Regions from separate parts of the Homo sapiens genome. Here regions 2, 3, 4 and 5 are each linked to region 1. Evidence: fine-mapped expression QTL. A gene starts in region 1. Each other region holds a variant in brackets. All regions are shown on one strand. Distances are between the middles of the regions. Region 1 holds the start of VNN1 (vanin 1). Region 2 has its middle 20 kb from the start of VNN1. Region 3 overlaps VNN2 (vanin 2). Region 4 overlaps TARID (TCF21 antisense RNA inducing promoter demethylation). Region 5 overlaps VNN2 (vanin 2).

Region 1 (4,123 bases):
ATCTCAATTCTCTGATGCATCCTAGAAAAGTTGTCGATTTTCATTTGTTTAGCTTTTTTCTTGGTGTGAGCATGGGAAAAATGACTGCCAAGCTCTTTATGAGTTGGACTAGAAACTCCACGGGAGGTTTAATATTTTTAATCTAAGAAGGTCAAGAAGTAATTTTTTAACCTCTTGCCAACTCATCTCAGTTTTAACTTTTATTTCAGTGCTTCCTTTTACAAATTGTTACATAATAATGACATCTTTTTGTGAAATATGTGGTATTCCCACCCACCTGGGCATGGAAAGGCCCTAAGAGGTCAGCAAGCAGTTAGAGAAGCTGGTGTTTACCGGAAACTCAGGAGAACCAGCCAACCACAACCCCTGGGTTACCTTGGCAATTGCAGAATAAATGCATTATAGTTACTAAAGTAAAAAATTAGATATGCCTGTTTGCAGATTGAACTATAAAAATACCATTCAAAGACAAATAGATCTAAAAATAAAATGGAAAAACATAAACACTAATTCTGTAAATATTATACTTAATGCACAACTGAAACAAAATTTGCCAGCTTACTCAATATCAAAATCTATGAACAGTTTTTCTATTTTATATAATTTCCCTCTCCTCTCTCTGGATCTCGCTCCCCAGCTCATTTTTTCTTTTTTTTGCTCTGATTCTTTATACACCTCTGTTGCCTCTGTGATAAGCAGCTTCAAAGATGGTTCCTAATGCTTTATTGGATAGAATACAACAAAAGCGATGAGGTGTTGCTTCCCCAATTACATTACGAAGCATCCGTGGCTTCCATCTCCAGTGGGTTCACTTGCTGTCTGGCTCTAAGGGAATCCAGATACCATAATGCGGGCTGCCCTATGGTGAGGTTTGCATCACTAGGAACTCATGTCTCTGGGCAACAACCAATGAGGTCTTGATCCCTGCCGTCAGCCACATGAGGGAGCTTGGAGCTCGGAAGTGAATCCTCCTGGAGTCAAGCCTTGATATAGCTAGCCCTGGCAGCTGCTTGACTGCAGCCTTGTGAAAGAGACCTTGGGCCAGAGGCACCAGCTAAACTGCCCCTGGATTCCTGACCCAGAGAAAGTGGGAGATGATGTATTTTTGCTTTTTGAAGCTGCTGAATTTGGGGATAATTTGTTATATAGCAATAGAAAATGAGTAACTCTTTTGTATTCCTCTTTGTCCTGGCTTCCCCATTTTGAGGAAAATAAAGTAAATCAAAGTGTAGAGCTGAAATATTCACATGAAAATAATAATAAAGTTTTAAAATTATTTGAATGTCTTGTGTTGACATTCCAAAATATATGAATTCCAAAAATTTATATGTTGAAGTCCTAACTGTCAGTATCTTAGAATGTAACTTTTTTGGAAAAGGGGTCATTTCAGATCTAATTAGTTAAGATGAAGTTATACTGGAGTACAGTGGGCACTAAATCGAATTGGTCCTATGATTGAGTCTCAGTCTTTCAGTGAGCCTGTACCCCTGGGTTTATGACCTTCAGTTGGCTTTTTTCTTCTGCCCTTATTTGGCATAAAAACAAAGCAGGTGGATCACCTGAGGTCAGCAATTTGAGACCAGCCTGCCCAACACGGCGAAACCCTATCTCTACTAAAAATACAAAAAATTAGCCTGGCGTGGTGGCGGGCGCCTGTAATCCCAGCTACTTGGGAGGCTGAGGCAGGAGAATCACATGAACCCGAGAGGCGGAGGTTGCAGTGAGCCGAGATTTCGCCACTGCACTCTAGCCTGGGTGACAAGAGTGAAACTCCATCTCAAACAACAACAACAATAAACAAACAACAACGATGACAAAAAAAGCTAGAGCTGGGATTTTCCCTTTCCCTGTGTTAAAGATTAGAGTGGTGTCCTCACAAAAAGGGAAAACTTGGATACAGGCACACACATGGGGAGAATAGCATATGAAGAGACACAGGGAGAAGGCAGCCATCTATGGGTCAAGGAGAGAGGCCTGGAACACATCTTTCCTTCACCGCCCTCAGGAGGAACCAACTCTGCTGACACCTTCATCTGGGACTCCCACCCTCCAGAACTGCAAAGCAATAAATTTTTTATTTTTTACACCACCCAGTTTATTGTATTTTGTTAGGCAGCCCTAGCGAACTAATGTACATAGAGTTCTTGAGTTAATCTTCACAAATTACTGCAATAAGGTAGGGTCTTTTGTTATGTAACAATGCTATGAAATCATAGCGTTTTCTTAATTAACTTCCGTAGTTTAAGGTACTAAGTTCTGGACACCACGTGTCTTCTTTCTATAAATACCAGGACATGCTCTGTTTTTCAGCACTCATTGGACTTCAGCATGACTACTCAGTTGCCAGCTTACGTGGCAATTTTGCTTTTCTATGTCTCAAGAGCCAGCTGCCAGGACACTTTCACTGCAGCTGTTTATGAGCATGCAGCGATATTGCCCAATGCCACCCTAACACCAGTGTCTCGTGAGGAGGCTTTGGCATTAATGAATCGGAATCTGGACATTTTGGAAGGAGCGATCACATCAGCAGCAGATCAGGTACCATCTCTACCATCTCTCCAGTGTACTGGATTCTATGAGAAAGGAGGGGGTCCTAGGAGACAGGGCCACTGTCAGGGTCAGTTACACTTTTAGATGATATATGTATCAGAGTAGCCAAGAACCTTTATTTTACAGTTAGAATTCTACTTTCCTCTCAAAATTAGAGCAAGGACTTCCCTAAAAGTAAGAACAAAGTTAAGAAAAGAACAATTTGCTCATTATCAAGAAGCAGCAGACCTTTGAGGAACTGGCCATAAATTCAACATCTTTGTTCCCCTTTTCTGGTACAGATGGAGGATGGAGGATAAATGGGTCAGGGACTAGGTGCTATTTTCAGAGTATTAGTGGCCTTCATGTACTCATGTGCTATTAAGGCTTTGCAGGTTTTCGAATAAATTTATAATCTGAAAACAAATTTAAGTTTTCAATTCCTTGCCAGCATGCATTATATACTTCACACTTCATTCTAATTACAAGATAAAAGTATATGTAATGCATTGTGAGTCCTTAAGTTTAGTGAAGGTTTCAGTTTGAAGTTAATCATACAGTATAAATTGTGGTTTACACAAATATTATTTTAAAAGCTATTGATCGATTAGGTGTAGACCAGGAATACATGAAGTGTGATAAAAGTCATGGATAAATGTGTATTACATATATCTATAAATATATATTCTTTTGTGTTGTTGAGTTAAGGTCTCACTCTGTCACCCAGGATGGAGTATAGTGGTGTGATCACGTCTCACTGCAGCCTTGACTTCCCGGGCTCAGGTGATTCTCCCACTACAGTCTCCAGAGTAGCTGGGACCACAGATGCATGCCACCGTGCCCAGCTAAGTTTTGTATTTTTTGTAGAGATGGGATTTTGCCATGTTGCCCACGCTGTACTTGAACTCCTGACCTCAGGTGATCCACCTGCCTTGGGCTCCCAAAGTGCTGGGATTACAGGCATGAGCTACCGTGACTGCCCTATATTCTTATATATACTAATATTTAAAAGGTTATCAGGAGTTCTGATGTTCTTTTTCATCCTTAGTCCAACTATTTCCTTGAAGGTCACAGAGCTTTTTAAGGTGACTCTCTAATTGGAAGGTGCCCAGGTTAGCTCAGGCAGTACTTGTAGGCATGGGACAGTTCAAGTAACCAGTTTGTGGCTCCTCTTTTTCTGAGAAGCAGGAATCATGTTTGCAGGGGAAAGCTAGGGCAGAGGAGGAAATAAACAGAATATTTAAGTTATTAATCAGTCTTGACACAGGCACAGTCATCAGCGAAAGTTCAAGGAGAGGCTTGGTTCCAGGATAAGCTAGGTTTATAGTTAACGACTGCCATAGGAAACAACAATGGCAGGATTAGAAAATTAAAATGCTTGACTAAGCCAGGTGCGGTGGCTCATGTCTGTAATTCCAACACTTTGGGAGGCTGAAGCAGGCGGATCACCTGAGGTTGGGAGTTCAAGACCATCCTGACCAATATGGAGAAACCCCATCTCTACTAAAAATACAAAAATTAGCCAGGCGTGGTGGCAGATGCCTGTGATCCTAGCTACTTATGAGGCTGAGGCGGGAGAATCGCTTGAACCCGG
Region 2 (4,123 bases), 20 kb before region 1:
TAAGGACATATGGAAACACTGTGGGGTATCTGGGAGCAGAAATATTTGGATAATGGAAAAGTTTATTGAAACCAAGGGACTTTGAATTATAGAAACAAACCAAACCCAAAATAGACACAAATCTCCATAACTTACAATTTTCCTTAGATCTTAGAAAGAATCTCAAGAGGGAGAAGCAGTGTTAATTGTTCTAGAATCAGAGATTTAAACCTTAAAAAAAATTCTACATTTTAAATTAACTGATATTCAAACAAGGAGATTCAATCCAAAATTGGGCGAGGGAAGTGAATTTAACTAATCAAAAAACATTTACAGAGCTTAGCACAGTATAAAATTCTATAGAAGCAGCAGAGAATTATAATGTGACCCTGCCCTTAAGGGACTTATAAGGATGATATGTTTAAAAAATAAAAGAATTAAAGGAGAACTTAACACTTTTTGAATTATTGATTAGTCTTCATATGGAAGCGGGTTTAAACTGTAGAAGACAGGTAAAGTAAATTGCATCTCAATAACAAGAATGTTCTTAAAATTGGCAATGTTCAAAGGTGGAATAGACTGGCCCATCAGGTAGTAGATTCCGTCATTCAACATTCATTCATATATTGAGCTTTCACCATCTGTCACACATGTGCTGGGGTGATGAGGTTCAACAGTGAGCAGGACACTTCCCTTACCCTCCAGGGGCCACATCCCAGGATACATCATCTCTGTCTAGATGTTTATTGGACATGGATGTTCTGAAAGAAAACAGCAAGTTTCTTTTTAATCTCTTTAAGAAGACAAAACATACATATATAATATTAAGTATTGGTATAATATTTAAATTAAAGGTCAAGACAACAGCAAGGAGTGAGAGACATTCAGCAGCACAGAAAAAAATGCTATAGGAGTTCAGAAATATCACTTAGGACTGGAGTGGATTTGGGAGGACTCTAGGGGGAGCTGGAACTTAGACGGATGGAGAACAAGGGCTTTTCAAATAGAAATGGCCATACAAATATGTAAGTAGAGTGCTCAACAAATTGTTGCTATGATGACTACCTTCCAATATTGGCCCTATTAATAGAAATGTTGGCTTACCAGGAAAATTTTTTTTTATTAGAAAAGACTTCAACTGCCAGTGTGTTTTGGACTGGGGTGAATTCATCTGGTTGGCTCAATCTTTTAGTGTTGACTTGACTCTGAACAATGTCAACAACTGCACTGTACACTTGAATCAATCCAATTACGTCCTGGCTGTCAGTTTTCTTGCACAACATCCTTTCTCAATGCTGTGTTGTGTAATATATGTGCAAGAAAATATAAACAGCTGATTGCCAGGAGGGATTTAATGTAAAGTTTTTCCAGTGAAACAAAACGTAAGAATCTGAGTTTGTTTTTCAAAGATCACTAAATTTTAGTTATGATTATATCACATTTTCCAAAATGTGTGGCAGTTTTTGCCCTCCTTGCTCTGAGTGTTGGTGCACTGGACACTTTTATTGCTGCAGTATATGAGCATGCGGTGATATTACCAAACAGAACAGAAACACCTGTTTCAAAAGAAGAAGCTTTGCTCCTGATGAACAAGAACATAGATGTTTTGGAGAAAGCAGTTAAGCTGGCAGCGAAGCAGGTATTA[C/G]CCTTTTATACTTGTAAAGGAGACTTGCAGTTTGGTCAAAGAGTATTTGGAATTCATGACAAACTTTTTTGCCCCACTTGTTTCGAGCAGGGTGCACATATCATTGTGACCCCAGAAGATGGAATCTATGGTTGGATCTTCACCAGGGAGAGCATTTACCCCTATCTAGAGGATATACCAGACCCTGGAGTGAACTGGATTCCATGTAGAGACCCCTGGAGGTAATATCATATCATTAATTTCTAAACAAAAAGTTGTGATTTGGTAAAACACCAACAGTAAACTCACTGAATTTGACTGGTAATTGTGTTGATAAATAGTCAATCTGTGGCATAGGATGTAGATGCTTTTTTTTCCCTGTAATTTCAACTTTTAGCTTAGATTGAGGGAGTACATGTGCAGGTTTGTTACATGGGCAAATTGCATGACGCTGAGGATTGGGGTACAATGATTGCACCACCCAGCATAGTATACAACAGGAAGGTTTTCAGCCCTTGCCTTCCTCTCTCTCTCTCCCCTCTATTAGTTCCCAGTGTCTATTGCTGTCATCTTTATGGCCATGAGTTCCCAATGCTTAGCTCCCACTTATAAGTGAGAACATGCAGTATTTGGTTTTCTGTTCCTGTGTTAACTTGCTGAGGATAATGTCCTTTGGTGCTGCAAAAGACATGATTTTGTTCCTTCTTGTGGGCACCTAGGTTAATTCCATATCTTTGCTGTTGTGAAAAGTGCTGCGATGAACATACAAGTGCACGAGTCTTTTTGGTAGAATGATTTCCTTTCCTTTGGGTATATACCTAGTAATGGGATTGTGAGTCGAATGGTTGCTGTGTTTTAAGTTCTCTGAGAAATCTCCAAACTGCTTTCCACAATGGCTGAACTAATTTACATTTCCACCAATAGTGTGTAAGTGTTCCCCTTTCTCCATAGCATCTTTTATTATTTGACTTTTTGTTAACAGTCATTCTGACTGGTGTGAGATGATATCTCATTGTGGTTTTGCTTGGCATTTCTCTGATGATAAGTGATGTTGAGTGTTTGTTCACGTGTTTTTTGGCCACTTGTATGTCCTCTTTTGAGAAGTGTCTGTTCATGTCTTTTGCCCACTTTTCAATGGGGTTATTTGTTTTGTTTTTGCTTATTGATTTAAGTTCCTTATGGATTCTGGATAGTAGACCTTTGTTAGATGCCTAGTTTGCAAATATTTTCTCCCATTCTGTAGGTTGTCTATTTACTCTGTTGATAGTTGCTTTTGCTGTACAGAGCTCTTTAGTTAAATTAGGTCCTACATGTCAAGTTTTGTTTTTGTTGCAATTGCTTTTGAGGACTTAGTCATAAATTATTTTCCAAGGTTCATGTCCAGAATGGTGTTTCTTAGATTTTCTTCTAGGATTCTTATAGTTTGAGGTCATACATTTAAATCTTTAATACATCTTGAGTTAATTTTTGTACATGGTGAAAGATAGGGGTCCAGTTTCAATCTTCTGCATATGGCTAGCCAGATATTCCAGCACCTTTTGTTGAATAAGGAGTCCTTTCCCCATACTTATTTTTGTGAACTTTGTTTGAGCTACAGATGGCTGTAGGTGTGCGGCTTTGTTTCTAGGCTCTCTATTCTGTTCTATTGGTCTATGTGTCTGTTTTTCTAACAGTACCATGTTGTTTTGATTACTGTAGCCTTGGGTAATGTGATGCCTCAGGCTTTGTTCTTTTTGTTTAGGATTGGTTTGGCGATTCAGGCTCTTTTTTGGTTCCATATGAATTTTAGAAATTTTGTTTATAAATCTGTGAAAAAATGACATTGGTAGTATGTTAGAAATAGTGTTGAGGCTGGGTGCTGTGGGTCATGCCTATAATCCCAGCACTTTGGGAGGCCAAGGCAGGTGGATTACTTGAGATTAGGAGTTTGAGACCAGCCTGGCCAACGTGGTAAAACCCCATCTCTACTAAAATACAAAAATTAGCTGGGTGTGGTGGTGTGTGCCTGTAATCCCAGCTACTCGGGAGGCTAAGGCATGAGAATTGCTTGAACGATAGAGTGAGACTCTGTCTCAAAAAAAAAAAAAAAAAAAAAAGAAGAAAAGAAATAGTGTTGAATCTGCAGATACTGCTTATGTTTCATAGTGTATATCATCTGGCATATCTCCTGTTTGGTAAATGACTTGAGATACTGATGACTAGTTGGTTATTTGTTGCAATTGTCTTTCAACAATAGTAGGTGTGACCAGGCGTGGTGGCTCACACTTGTAATCCCATCACTGTGGGAAGCCAAAGCAGGAGGACTGCTTGAAGCCAGAAGTTTGAGACCAGCCTGCGCAGCAAAGCCAGACCCTATTTCGGCAAATAAAAAATTTAGCCAGGTGTGGTGGCTCACACCTATAATCCCAGCTACTCGAGAGGCTGAAGCAGGAGGATCACTGGGGCCCAGGAGTTTGAGGCTGCAGTGAGCTATGATTGCACCACTGCACTCCAGCCTGGGTGACAGTAAGACCTTGTCTT
Region 3 (4,123 bases), 30 kb before region 1:
ACACGTTATCTTAGAGGATCACTATTGCAGAGATTTCAACACACTTGTTGTGTATCCTCAACCCCCACCACCACTTTAGTTTTATGTTAAAAGGGTGGTGTTACTCACCATGCCCACAAATGTGGAAACATCTTGCTTTAGCACCTTAGGCAACTCTGGTGTATTGTCAGAAGCACTGGCAGAGTCTGTTCTCTGTAACTAACTAGTTAGATAACCTTGGGAAAGTCACTTAACCTCTGAATTTCCTACTCATAGAAGAGAATATTTTCCTCACTGATTTGGTGAGGATCAAATATGATAATGCATGTGAAGACACTTTGTGAATGGTGAAGTACAATCATTATCTTCTAGGATATTTAGTCATTTTCTCCTCCCAGTTGTAAAGCATCTGTTTTCCTAATTTTCAATTTCTTCTCCACTCCAACTAATTTCCCAATTTTCAATTTCTTCTCCATTCCAACTCCATTTCCACAACTAATGGGTTCATTTTCTTTTATTCTTGTTCTGTTTATTGACTGTCTATGCATGTTTCCTTCTGTTCTTGTTCAATTGCTTTGTACATATTCCTCTCTTATGAAAACTCCACTGTGGCTTCAGGCTAGATCTAGTCATTAATGCCTTTCACAGTCTGATCTCCACCTTCCTCTGATCATATTCCTTCTTCTCTTCTTCACTAATCTTCAGCGCTAGCCAGTGGTGTGATGTAACTTTAAACAATTCCTTCTCTGAGGTAGAAAACAAAAAGCCCTGACTTATGGAATTTGCCAGTTTTCATTGTGTCAATATTCCCGCCATGATCCCACCAGCTTCAAGAATGGATCTGTTGGCAGAGTTTGATAGCTCACGCCTGTAATCCCAGCACTTTGGGAGGCTGAGTTGGGAGGACCATTTGAGGCCAGGAGTTCGAGAACAGCCTGGGCAACATGGTGAAGCCCTGTCTCTACTAAAAATACAAAAATTAGCTGGGCTTGGTGGCACGCCCCTGTAATCCCAGCTACTGGGGAGCTTGAGGCAGGAGAATCACTTGAACCCAGCAGGCGGAGGTTGCAGTGAGCCAAGATCATGCCACTGCACTCCAGCCTGGGTGACAGAGCGAGACTCCATCTCAAAAAAGGGGGAAAAAAAGAATGGCTGTGTTTAACAGCCAGCTGTCCAATTTCCTGGAAATTTAACAATCTGTTCTCATGAGCCTGTGCACCACTAGCTCCAGCACACCACTGGTTTTAACCAATCTAGAATGAGAACTCACATTGCCTTGATCTGTCACACACACTTCTGTCTCAGAATGAGCCTTTGCTGGTTCAATGTCCACTTCCCACAATGTCTTCCACCATACAGCCCTTGAAAGAAATTCCTAACAGCTTGAGTTTTTGGCAGCTTGTGTCCCACTCCGTGAAACAGACCAGTTCAGTTTTTTTTTTCTCAGACCTCCTAGCACTTACCTGTTCTCTTCTCTGATACACTGATAAACTGATTTCTCTCTTTATGTTTAGAATCCGCTCCATTTCACCATTAGCTCTTTAGCTTCTTGAGGGAAGGATGTGATGTATAACTCTCTGGTTCCTGATTGTCTTGCACATAATCGAACTCAATGAATTGCTGCTGCTGATTTTGACTTTCCATTAATGGTTACATTTGATTGTTGAAACTAAAATCTTGGGCCCTCTTGAATTGCTCTAGTCTTCATTATGTAGTAAATGGCTGTCCCCTGCCTGGCCTACTTGCTGCATCCTCCTAAATCAGAAATGATTTGACTATACATTATATCTAGGATGGTTTCAAAATGATTAATTTGCTTTTAACTTCTATGTTAAGAAAGCTGACTGTACTTTTCCCACCTTTTCTTTAGGTGCTGAAAGATGGGCGTTTGGTAAACAAGAATGGATCATCTGGGCCTATACTAACAGTGTCACTCTTTGGGAGGTGGTACACAAAGGACTCACTTTACAGCTCATGTGGGACCAGCAATTCAGCAATAACTTACCTGCTAATATTCATATTATTAATGATCATAGCTTTGCAAAATATTGTAATGTTATAGGGCGTCTCTTTATCACTCAGCTTCTGCATCATATGCTTGGCTGAATGTGTTTATCGGCTTCCCAAGTTTACTAAGAAACTTTGAAGGGCTATTTCAGTAGTATAGACCAGTGAGTCCTAAATATTTTTTCTCATCAATAATTATTTTTTAAGTATTATGATAATGTTGTCCATTTTTTTGGCTACTCTGAAATGTTGCAGTGTGGAACAATGGAAAGAGCCTGGGTGTTTGGGTCAGATAAATGAAGATCAAACTCCAGCTCCAGCCTCATTTGCTTGAGACTTTGTGTGTATGGGGGACTTGTATGTATGGGAGTGAGGAGTTTCAGGGCCATTGCAAACATAGCTGTGCCCTTGAAGAGAATAGTAATGATGGGAATTTAGAGGTTT[A/G]TGACTGAATTCCCTTTGACATTAAAGACTATTTGAATTCACCTAGTTTTCTGTGCTAATGTTTATCAGGAGATTTACTTTCCAATCAAAAGGCAATGTCGACATTTATTTCTACAGTGAACGTAGTTTTGAGTGCTAGAAGAATTGATGGCTATTCCAAGTTCATATCAAAGGAGACCTGACCCAGGGCACTCATAGCCCCAGCTGTCCCACCTTAAGGCTATGGCGTAATTTAACAGGCAGAAATCTCATAACACAAAGACCATGACAGTTAAAAGTTACACTATTTTCAGCATTTGGTTGACTTTTTACAAAATACACATATTCCATGCTACTTGAAGTAAACTAGTATATTTGTTATTGATCATTTAATTCAGATACTCTTAAAATTAAAGAACTGATTTTGAATTTTCAGATTTATTTTCTGATTTTTATCTCCCAAAGTATTTTTAAATTCAATACTTTTACATAAAAAAACACAATTGAAGCATTTATCTTTTGTTTTTACATATTGTCATAAACCTACTTATGGATTTGATTTTAAAATTCTACTAAAATACACTAGAAAAGTAAGATTCCTTTTATAATCTCGTGGTTAGTATTAAGAGAAGAAATATGGAAGTTAAGCCACACTTTGTATTTAATTTTGAGAAGAGCATACATATTCCCTATGTTCAGCATTGGGACATCAAAGATGGCAATTTTAAAGCTGTAATGAACGTGCATTTGTGTATATAGTCCAAATCATATAATCATCAAAGTTTTATGCTCTTTTTTCTTTTTCTTTTTCTTTTTTTTTTTTTGAGACAGAGTCTCACTCTGTCACCCAAGCTGGAGTGCAATGGTGGGAGTTCAGCTCATTGCAACCTCCGCCTCCTGGGTTCAAGTGCTTCTCCTGCCTCAACCTCCCAAGTAGCTGGAATTACAGGCACCCACCACCATGCCCGGCTAATTTTTGTATTTTTAGTAGAGATGGAGTTTCGCCATGTTGGCCAGGCTGGTCTCGAACTCCTGACCAGGTGATCCACCCACTTTGGCCTCCCGATGTGCTGGGATTACAGGCATGAGCCACCATGCCTGGCTTCTTTTTCCTTTTCATAAAGTATGGGACATTTAAAATTTGCCAAGTTTTGCTTGAGGAAGTTAGATGTTGTGCAGTGGTTTTGCAGCATGTATTTTGGCTCTTGGGCAATGACGTTTCATTTGCAGAAGTTTAGATGTTGATTGAAAATCAACAGCTGACGTTAAACAAACTGGTTTGAGTAAGATACAAGCAAGGAGCTCCTTTCACAGAAAGGGACAGTTCTGATTCAAGCTTGGAGCTCTCAGCTGTACCTCAGTTTGTTAAAAATAAAAACAAAAAACGAAAGCACCAAGTGCCAAGGAAATTAAAGAGCACTTAATGCTCTACTGTAAAATTGCCTGCACCACATTTTAACCCATCTCCACCGTGGTTTCTCACATACATTTTATTTTATCAAACAACCCAAGCATAGTTTCATTTGGCCTTTATATTTCTTTGATAACTATCTTTCATCCCATTTTATTTTATTTTTACTTATTTATTTATTTATTTTTTGAGATAGAGTCTCGCTCTGTTGCCCAGGCCGGAGTGCAGTGGTGCGATCTCGGCTCACTTCAAGCTCCGCCTCCCAGGTTCACGCCATTCTCCTGCCTCAGCCTCCTGAGTAGC
Region 4 (4,123 bases), 850 kb before region 1:
ATGGCCTAAAACCAAGACCTAAAACTATAAAACTCCTAGAAGAAAACATAAAAGAAAAGCTTAAGGACATTGTATTTGACAATGATTTCTTGAATATGACATCAAAAGCACAGGCAACAGAACTAAAAATAGACAAATGGGACTACATGAAACTTAAAACTTCTGCACAACAAAGAAAACACTCATCAGAGTGAAAAACAACCCTTGGAATGGAAGAATATATTTTCAAATCATATATCTGATAAGAGATTATTATTCAGAATATGTGAGGAAATTCCACAGTAACAACAACAAATATAACTCAGTTAAAATATGGGCAAAGAACTTAAATAGACATTTGTCTAAGAAGATATATAAATGGCCAACCAGTATAAGAAAAGATACTGACTGCAATGGTTAATACTGAGTGTCAACTTGATTAGATTGAAGGATGCAAAATATTGATCCTGGGTGTGTCTGTGAGGGTATTGTCAAAGGAGATTATCATTTGAGTCAGTGGGCTGGGAAAGGCAGACCCACCCTTCATCTGGGTGGCCACCATCTAATCAGCTGCCAAAGTGGCCAGAATATAAAGCAGGCAGAAAAACATGAAAAGACTAGACTGGTTTCGCTTCCAAGCCTACATCTTTCTCCCAAGCTAGATGCTTCCTGCCCTCGAAGATTGGACTCCATGTTCTTCAGTTTGGGACTCAGACTGACTCTCCTTGCTCCTCAGCTTGCAGATGGCCTGTTGTGGAACCTTGTGATTGTGTGAGTTAATTCTTAATAAACTCTCCTTTACATATACATATACATATACATATATGTATATATATACCTATATATATACACACACCTATATATATACACACACCTATATATATATATATATACACCTATATATATATATATATAAAAATTAGTTCTGTCCCTCTATAGAGGGACATATATATATACACACACACACACACACACACATATATATACACATATATATATAATTAGTTCTGTCCCTCTATAGAGCCCCGACGCCCTGACCAATATACATTTTGGTATCAGGAGTGTTTCTAGAGGAACAGAATATTAAGAATGGGGTTATTTCACTGGTTTTGGGGTTTCTGGAGTTGGCTGCTTAATATGATTAGACCAAAAAATGCTAAGGACTCTACTTCTAATAGTATGAAAACACTGATAGTGCTTGGCGGAAACTGTTTAGACAGTTATGCAAAGTAAATGCATTTAATACTCCTGATTCACCACTCATGAGAGGCAAGGAGTTTAATGACTCTATACATAATACCTTTGACCATATGTGGAGAACCAAGGAACATAATGAAGTTGATTGGTTGCTCCTAAGTTCAGTGGACAAAGTGATGAAAGAAAATGATGAACTCAGGGATTCTGCTTCAGAAGCAGATATTGAGCCTCAAATCTGCTAAGATTGCCCTAAGTGAGAGTCTTAGCTCCTGTAGAGAAAGAGCTGAAATTGGGGAAAAACAGACACAGACTCTTATGTGAGTGGCTGACCTGCAACAAAAGATGCATGCACAGCCTTGCCAGGTGTCCACTGTTAAAGTGAGGGCACTGATTGGAAAGGAATGGGACCCTGTA[A/G]CTTGGAATAGGGACGTGTGGGAGGACCCTGATGAAGCTGGGGACACTGAGTTTGTAAACTCTGATGAACCTTTTTTGCCAGAAGAAACAGCTTCCCTATCCCAAGTAGTGGCAACATCCCCTCCCTGATCCATGCTGCCATCAGCCTTTCCACCTTTGTCTAAGGAGATAAACCCTGTGCTGCTTGAGGCAAGAGTGATGGCCTCCCCTGAGGCAGTTGTCAGGCAAGATGATGTTGATTCTCCTCAGGAGCCACCACAAACACTCCTGTTTCCTTCTAGACTAAAGTCCTGGTGGGACCCTAGAGGTAAGGTTCAAAGTGTGACCCATGAGGAGGTGTGCTACACTCAAAAAGAATTGCTTGAGTTTTCTAATTTATATGAGCAGAAATTTGGAGAACAGGCATGGGAATGGATATTAAGGGTGTGGGATAAGGATAGAAGGAACATAAGAGTTGGATCAGGCTGAATTTATTGATTTGGGCCCAATAAGTATGGATTCTGCATTTAATGTTGCAGCTTGGGGAGTTACAGAAAGGTTCTAATAGTTTATTTGCTTTGTTAGCTGCAATATGGATTAAAAGATGGCCCACTGTGACCCAGCTGGAAATGCCTGATCTCCCTTGGTTTAATGTAGAGAAAGGGATCCAAACACTTAAGGAGATCGGGATGGTGGAGTGGATTAGTCACTTTAGACCTACTTATCCCAGCTGGGAGGGTGCAGAAGATATACTCTTGACCAATGCCCTGTGAAATAGATTTGTGAGGGCAGTGCCTGCATCTTTGAAGAGCTTTGTGGGTGCTCTGCTCTGTATGTCAGATCTAACTGTGAGAACCACAGTCACTCAACTACAAAATTTAAATACAATAGGAATAATTGGATCATGAGGTGGCAGGGGCCAACTGGTGGAACTCAACCATCAAAGGCAAGGTGGGCATAGCTACCATCATGGACTGCAGAGGCAAAGCAGCAATCAGAATAATCTGACTCGTGTAGAGCTCTGGCATTGACAAATTAATCATGGTGTTACTATAAGTGAAATTAATAGGAAGTTTACTGCATTCCTACTTAATTTATATAAGCAGAAAACTTCTAGGTCGCATAGACAAAAGACTAATTTGAATTATAAAAACAGGTCATCATGGCCCCTTAATCAATTTCCAGACTTGAGCCAGTTTACAGACCCAGAGCCCCTTGAATGAAGGGGAGGCTGAGTCCCCTTGAAGAAGGAACCCACTATATTACTGACAATTTATGCAGTGAATCTTTCTCCCATCCATTCCCAAGGAGACCTTTGGCTCTTTCCCAGGGCATCTGTGCACTGGGAAAAGGGAAATGATCAAACATTTTGGGGACTACTGGACACTGGCACTGAGCTAACATTGATTCCAGGGGACCCAAAACATCATTATGGTATCCAGTTAAAGTAGAGGCTTATAGAGGACAGGTAATTAATGGAGTTTTATCTCAAGTCTGACTTACAATGGCTTCAGTGGGTCCCTGGACTCATCCTGTGGTCATTTCCCTAGGGCCAGAATGCATGATTGGCATAGACATACTTAGCTGCTGGCAGAATCCCCACATTGGCTCTCTGACTGGTAGGGTGAGGGCTATTGTGGTGGGAAAGGCCAAATGGAAGCCATTAGAGCTGCCTGTACCTAGAAGAATAGTAAATCAAAAACAATATCACATCCCTGGAGGGACTGTGGAGATCAGTGCCACCATCAAGGACTTGAAAGACGCAGAGGTGGTGATTCCCACCACATCTCCATTCAACTCTCCCATTTGGCCTGTGCAGAAGACAGATCAATCTTGGAGAATGACAGTGGATTATTATAAGCTTAACCAAGTGGTGACTCCAGTTGCAGCTGCTGTACCAGATGTGGTTTCATTGCTTGAGCAAATTAACACATCTCCTGTTACCTGGTATGCAGCCATTGATTTGGCAAATGGCATTTTCTCCATTTCTGACCATAAGGCCCACCAGAAGCAATTTGCCTTCAGCTGGCAAGGCCAGCAATATACTGTTGGGAACAGGCCCCCCAAAATCTGGCCATGAACTGGCCCCAAAACTGGCCATAAACAAAATCTCTGCAGCACTGTGACATGATGGCCATAATGCCCATGCTGGAATGTTGTGGGTTTACTGGAATGAGGGCAAGGAACACCTGGCCCGCCCAGGGAGGAAAACCGCTTAAAGGCATTCTTAAACCACAAACAACAGCATGAGTGATCTGTGCCTTAAGGACATGCTCCTGCTGCAGATAACTAGCCCAACCCATCCCTCTATTTCGGCCAATCCCTTTGTTTCCCATAAGGGATACTTTTAGTTAATCTAATATCTGTAGAAACAATGCTAATGACTGGCTTGCTGTTAATAAATACGTGAGTAAATCTCTGTTCGGGGCTCTCAGCTTTGAAGGCTGTGAGACCCCTGATTTCCCACCTCACACCTCTATATTTCTGTGTGTGGGTCTTTAATTCCTCTAGCGCCGCTGGCTTAGGGTCCCCTCGACCAAGCTGGTCTCGACAA
Region 5 (4,123 bases), 38 kb before region 1:
AGAGAAAGAAGCCTGGCCTTTTAAATGGATATGTGTGATGTACAGGCAGTATGAATGTCCCTTCTCCACACCCAGATATTTTGTAAGCATCTTAAACTGTAGCCTCAGAATCTTTGGAGTGGAGAAATTATCTCCTGGCAGTCTCAGTTAAAATATAAATATTAATTAAGAGGAGGGATGTTAAACCAATGGTTTTCAAATGATTTCGATCATGGACCCCTATTGGAAAAAATCGTTAACATAAGTCCTCAATATATGTATTTTTGTGTGTGTATTTATAAAGTGCAACAATTTCAAAATGCTTTCTTCATAATTTTGTGGATTTTGACAGCTTCTTTTCATATATATCACTGCATTTCACTTTCTTCTTAAAATGTGTCTCATAGTAAAAATAGAAAGGTCAGTGCTTCCATTTTCTTGCTTGGGAGATTGTTTGCATTATTTGTATTATCTTTCAATGCAGTTTATTTGCAGTAATCATTTGAAGCTATTCTGCCATTCTGTAAATATGCAGGATGGCACAGTGCACTGAATGTGGACAAACTAGCAAGGAACCTGCAGTCACCCTGTCTAAGTTGAAAGGCTCTCACTCTTCCCTGAGGGTACCTCAGGGACCGTTTGTAACCCATGACCTCTGACATATGTGAACCTAATGAGAATACCTTTGTCGATCAATTCCTTTTTTTTTTTTTTTTTTTTTTTTTTTAGGCAGAGTCTGGCTCTGTCATCCCGGCTGGAGTGCAATGGCACGATCTCAGCTCACTGCAACCTCTGACTCCCAGGTTCAACCCATTCTCCTGCCTCAGCCTCCTGAGTAGCTGGGATTACAGGTGCATACCACCACACCCGGCTAATTTTTGGATTTTTTAGTAGAGATGGGGTTTCTCCATGTTGGCCAGGCTGGTCTTGAGCTCCTGGCCTCAAGTTATCTGCCTGCCTTGGCCTCCCAAAGTGCTTGGATTACAGGCATGAGCCACCTTGCCTGGCCTGTCAATTCTTAAAATAGTAGTAAAGCCCAATTTCTTTTCTATTTTTTAGATATTTTTTCTACACTGCAGACCATTTTATTAACTGTTGATTCCATTTATTATATTAGACTAAGTTTTTTTTTAGTTTACCTAGAAGGAATCGGGAAATTAAATACATTTCTATGGTAATTTTGAAAGGTGGGCAAGAGTCACTGAGATTACTTTGGATGGGACACTAAAGAGAGAGATGACATCTCTCACCTGACTTACAGGTATTTATTATGCATCTATTAATATTACGTTTCTAGGCACCAAGGATTCAAAGAAGAATAATGCATGTTTTTTAACTTTTAAGAAGCTTATAGGGCCAGGTGCTGTGGTTCATTCCTGTAATCCCAGCACTTTGGGAGGCCCAGGTGGGTGGATCATGAGGTCAGGAGATTGAGATCATCCTGGCTGACACGGTGAAACCCCGACTCTACTAAAAATACGAAAAAATTAGCCGGGCATAGTGGCACGTGCCTGTAATCCCAGCTACTCGCTTGAACTCAGGAGGTGGAGATTGCAGTGAGCCGAAATCATGCCACTGCACTCCAGCCTGGGTGATAGAGCGAGGCTCCGTCTCAGAAAAATAAAATTAAATTAAATTTAAAAAAAGCTTACGGACTTTGGGGTTTATGGGGGGGTATTTGGCTCTTAACTGAGAGAGAGGGAAAGAGAGAGAAGGGAGAGAGAGGAGATGAGAGATGCTATGGACGTATGTTACATATTCCTCCACATTTTCCTTAGAAATTTACTTCCAATTGCCAGATTTATCCGCTTCCTAGGAGATTCCCTGCAGTTGACCATAGCCAAATCTGTTACCAACTTAGAGGGTTTTTATGAGTCATTTCTTCAACAAATAAGGTTTTACTGGTTTTCTCCTATCCATTTGTTGTAGTACCACCTGTACTCTGAGCCTCAGTTTAATGTCCCTGAAAAGCCGGAGTTGGTGACTTTCAACACCGCATTTGGAAGGTTTGGCATTTTCACGTGCTTTGATATATTCTTCTATGATCCTGGTGTTACCCTGGTGAAAGATTTCCATGTGGACACCATACTGTTTCCCACAGCTTGGATGAACGTTTTGCCCCTTTTGACAGCTATTGAATTCCATTCAGCTTGGGCAATGGGAATGGGAGTTAATCTTCTTGTGGCCAACACACATCATGTCAGCCTAAATATGACAGGTAATTCATGACCAGGTTAGGTTTCATCTTATATTTTTAAGTGCAGAGAAATGAATGCCTCAGTTATGACTTGTATTAATTTTTTGCTTATTGGAAATTCTTACTGTGTTTGTCATAGTTTCACAATAGAAAAAAAAAGCTAGCACTTGATTATAAGCTATGGTTATACTAAGA[C/T]CTTTATGTGTATTATTCATTTAATTATTACAATAATTATATGAGATAGATAGTGTCATCCCAATTTTGCAGATGAGAAAATTGACATACAGAGAGTGCAAGTAATTTGCCAAATGCTACCCAGCTACTACTTTCCTCAGTGGCCATGGAAGCCTCTATATCTTGCCCTTTGTCTCCTCCTATGGCTGCATGGCATATCCTCGTGACATGGCTGCTGTCTTCCTCTAGAGCAATTAATGAGAGGGGACAAGAGAGAAAAGGAAAGAAGCCACATTGCTATTTATGACTAGTTACCCACCATCACTTCTGCCATGTTCTATTCATTGGAAGTGAGTCACTAAGTCCAGCCCCTCTTCAAGGGGAAAGGAATTAGATCCTCCCACCAGAAAGAAGAATTTTAAGGAATTTTTGGATATATTTGAAAACCACCACAATGAGGAATAGGGGAGAATTTTTATTCCCTTTCCCCACCTTTCAGGAACTCCTGACTACAAAGATTTTTGTAGTTGGTTTAATTTTCCATAATGCTAATAAATAATGCTATTATATTTAAGGTTTAATTGAAATGAGACCAAGGAATGTTTATTTTAATCTCTTCCATTAGAGAATAGAAGTAGTTAGGTGTTCAGTGCAATTAGAAGCATGTATCCTCTCTCATCGTGACTAATATGGTGGCGTGATCACATGCCCAATTCTGATGGGGAAATTGGCAGTTTTGGTTTTTTTGTGTGTGGTGTTGTTTTTAGAAGACTTGTCTTTCATTCACAGGAAGTGGTATTTATGCACCAAATGGTCCCAAAGTGTATCATTATGACATGAAGACAGAGTTGGGAAAACTTCTCCTTTCAGAGGTGGATTCACATCCCCTATCCTCGCTTGCCTACCCAACAGCTGTTAATTGGAATGCCTACGCCACCACCATCAAACCATTTCCAGTACAGAAAAACACTTTCAGGGGATTTATTTCCAGGGATGGGTTCAACTTCACAGAACTTTTTGAAAATGCAGGAAACCTTACAGTCTGTCAAAAGGAGCTTTGCTGTCATTTAAGCTACAGAATGTTACAAAAAGAAGAGAATGAAGTATACGTTCTAGGAGCTTTTACAGGATTACATGGCCGAAGGAGAAGAGAGTACTGGCAGGTAATTTCAGTTCAAATGAAAGGGCATTCAAGTGAAAGGTAAATTCCAGGTTAACTTTTTATATTTGTTCCAGAAAACCAGGTGCTTTTCCTTGGCTTGACTCCATGCATTGATGGCAACACACACACACACAACACACACACACACACGTGCATTTATGCACGTACATACACTGGGATAAAATATTTACAATGGGAATTAAGTATAATCTTATTGCTTGCTTTAAGCATATTTAAAAAATTATTAACCTAACCATGATGAGTTTCGATTTGACTAATAAACCAGCCTACTGTGGAGAACATCAAGAAGACTTCCTTAAGTGGGTTTGCCAACATATCTAAATTATAAACAGTCTTATTTTCACTTGCAAAACTAACAGTAAATAGAGATACTACTTTTATTTTAGTTTCTCTTCTAATCAGATGTCCCGGGTTTTGTATAGCTTTCTTTTTCTTTTCTTTTCTTTTTCTTTTTTTTTTTTTTGAGACAATTTCACTCTGTCACCCTGGCTAGAGTGCAGTAGCATGATCTCGGCTCACTACAACCTCTGCCTCCCAGGTTCAAGCGATTCTCATGCCTCAGCCTCCTGAGTAGCTGGGACTACAGGCAT

The links. PIP is the estimated chance that this variant, and not a neighbour inherited with it, causes the effect.
Region 2: its variant is fine-mapped to the expression of VNN1 in whole blood (INTERVAL, PIP above 0.99).
Region 3: its variant is fine-mapped to the expression of VNN1 in whole blood (TOPMed, PIP above 0.99).
Region 4: its variant is fine-mapped to the expression of VNN1 in monocytes after R848 (Quach 2016, PIP 0.95).
Region 5: its variant is fine-mapped to the expression of VNN1 in blood mononuclear cells (TOPMed, PIP above 0.99).

What each region holds. Positions count from the first base shown.
Region 1 is chr6:132,712,241-132,716,363 of GRCh38, reverse strand. It overlaps VNN1 (vanin 1), which reads left to right and starts at 2,309. Exons shown (of 7, transcript NM_004666.3): 1 at 2,309-2,538. The coding sequence starts at 2,329.
Region 2 is chr6:132,731,975-132,736,097 of GRCh38, reverse strand. It overlaps the pseudogene VNN3P. Among named protein-coding and RNA genes, the nearest start is that of VNN1, 20 kb to the right of the region's middle. The variant C/G (reference allele first, on the strand shown) is at 1,625.
Region 3 is chr6:132,742,218-132,746,340 of GRCh38, reverse strand. It overlaps VNN2 (vanin 2), which reads left to right. Exons shown (of 7, transcript NM_004665.6): 7 at 1,850-2,471. The coding sequence ends at 2,041. Among named protein-coding and RNA genes, the nearest start is that of VNN2, 14 kb to the left of the region's middle. The variant A/G (reference allele first, on the strand shown) is at 2,431.
Region 4 is chr6:133,558,413-133,562,535 of GRCh38, reverse strand. The region is part of intron 5 of TARID (TCF21 antisense RNA inducing promoter demethylation); the gene reads left to right. Among named protein-coding and RNA genes, the nearest start is that of EYA4-AS2, 100 kb to the right of the region's middle. The variant A/G (reference allele first, on the strand shown) is at 1,591.
Region 5 is chr6:132,750,535-132,754,657 of GRCh38, reverse strand. It overlaps VNN2 (vanin 2), which reads left to right. Exons shown (of 7, transcript NM_004665.6): 4 at 1,909-2,197; 5 at 3,140-3,513. Among named protein-coding and RNA genes, the nearest start is that of VNN2, 5.3 kb to the left of the region's middle. The variant C/T (reference allele first, on the strand shown) is at 2,372.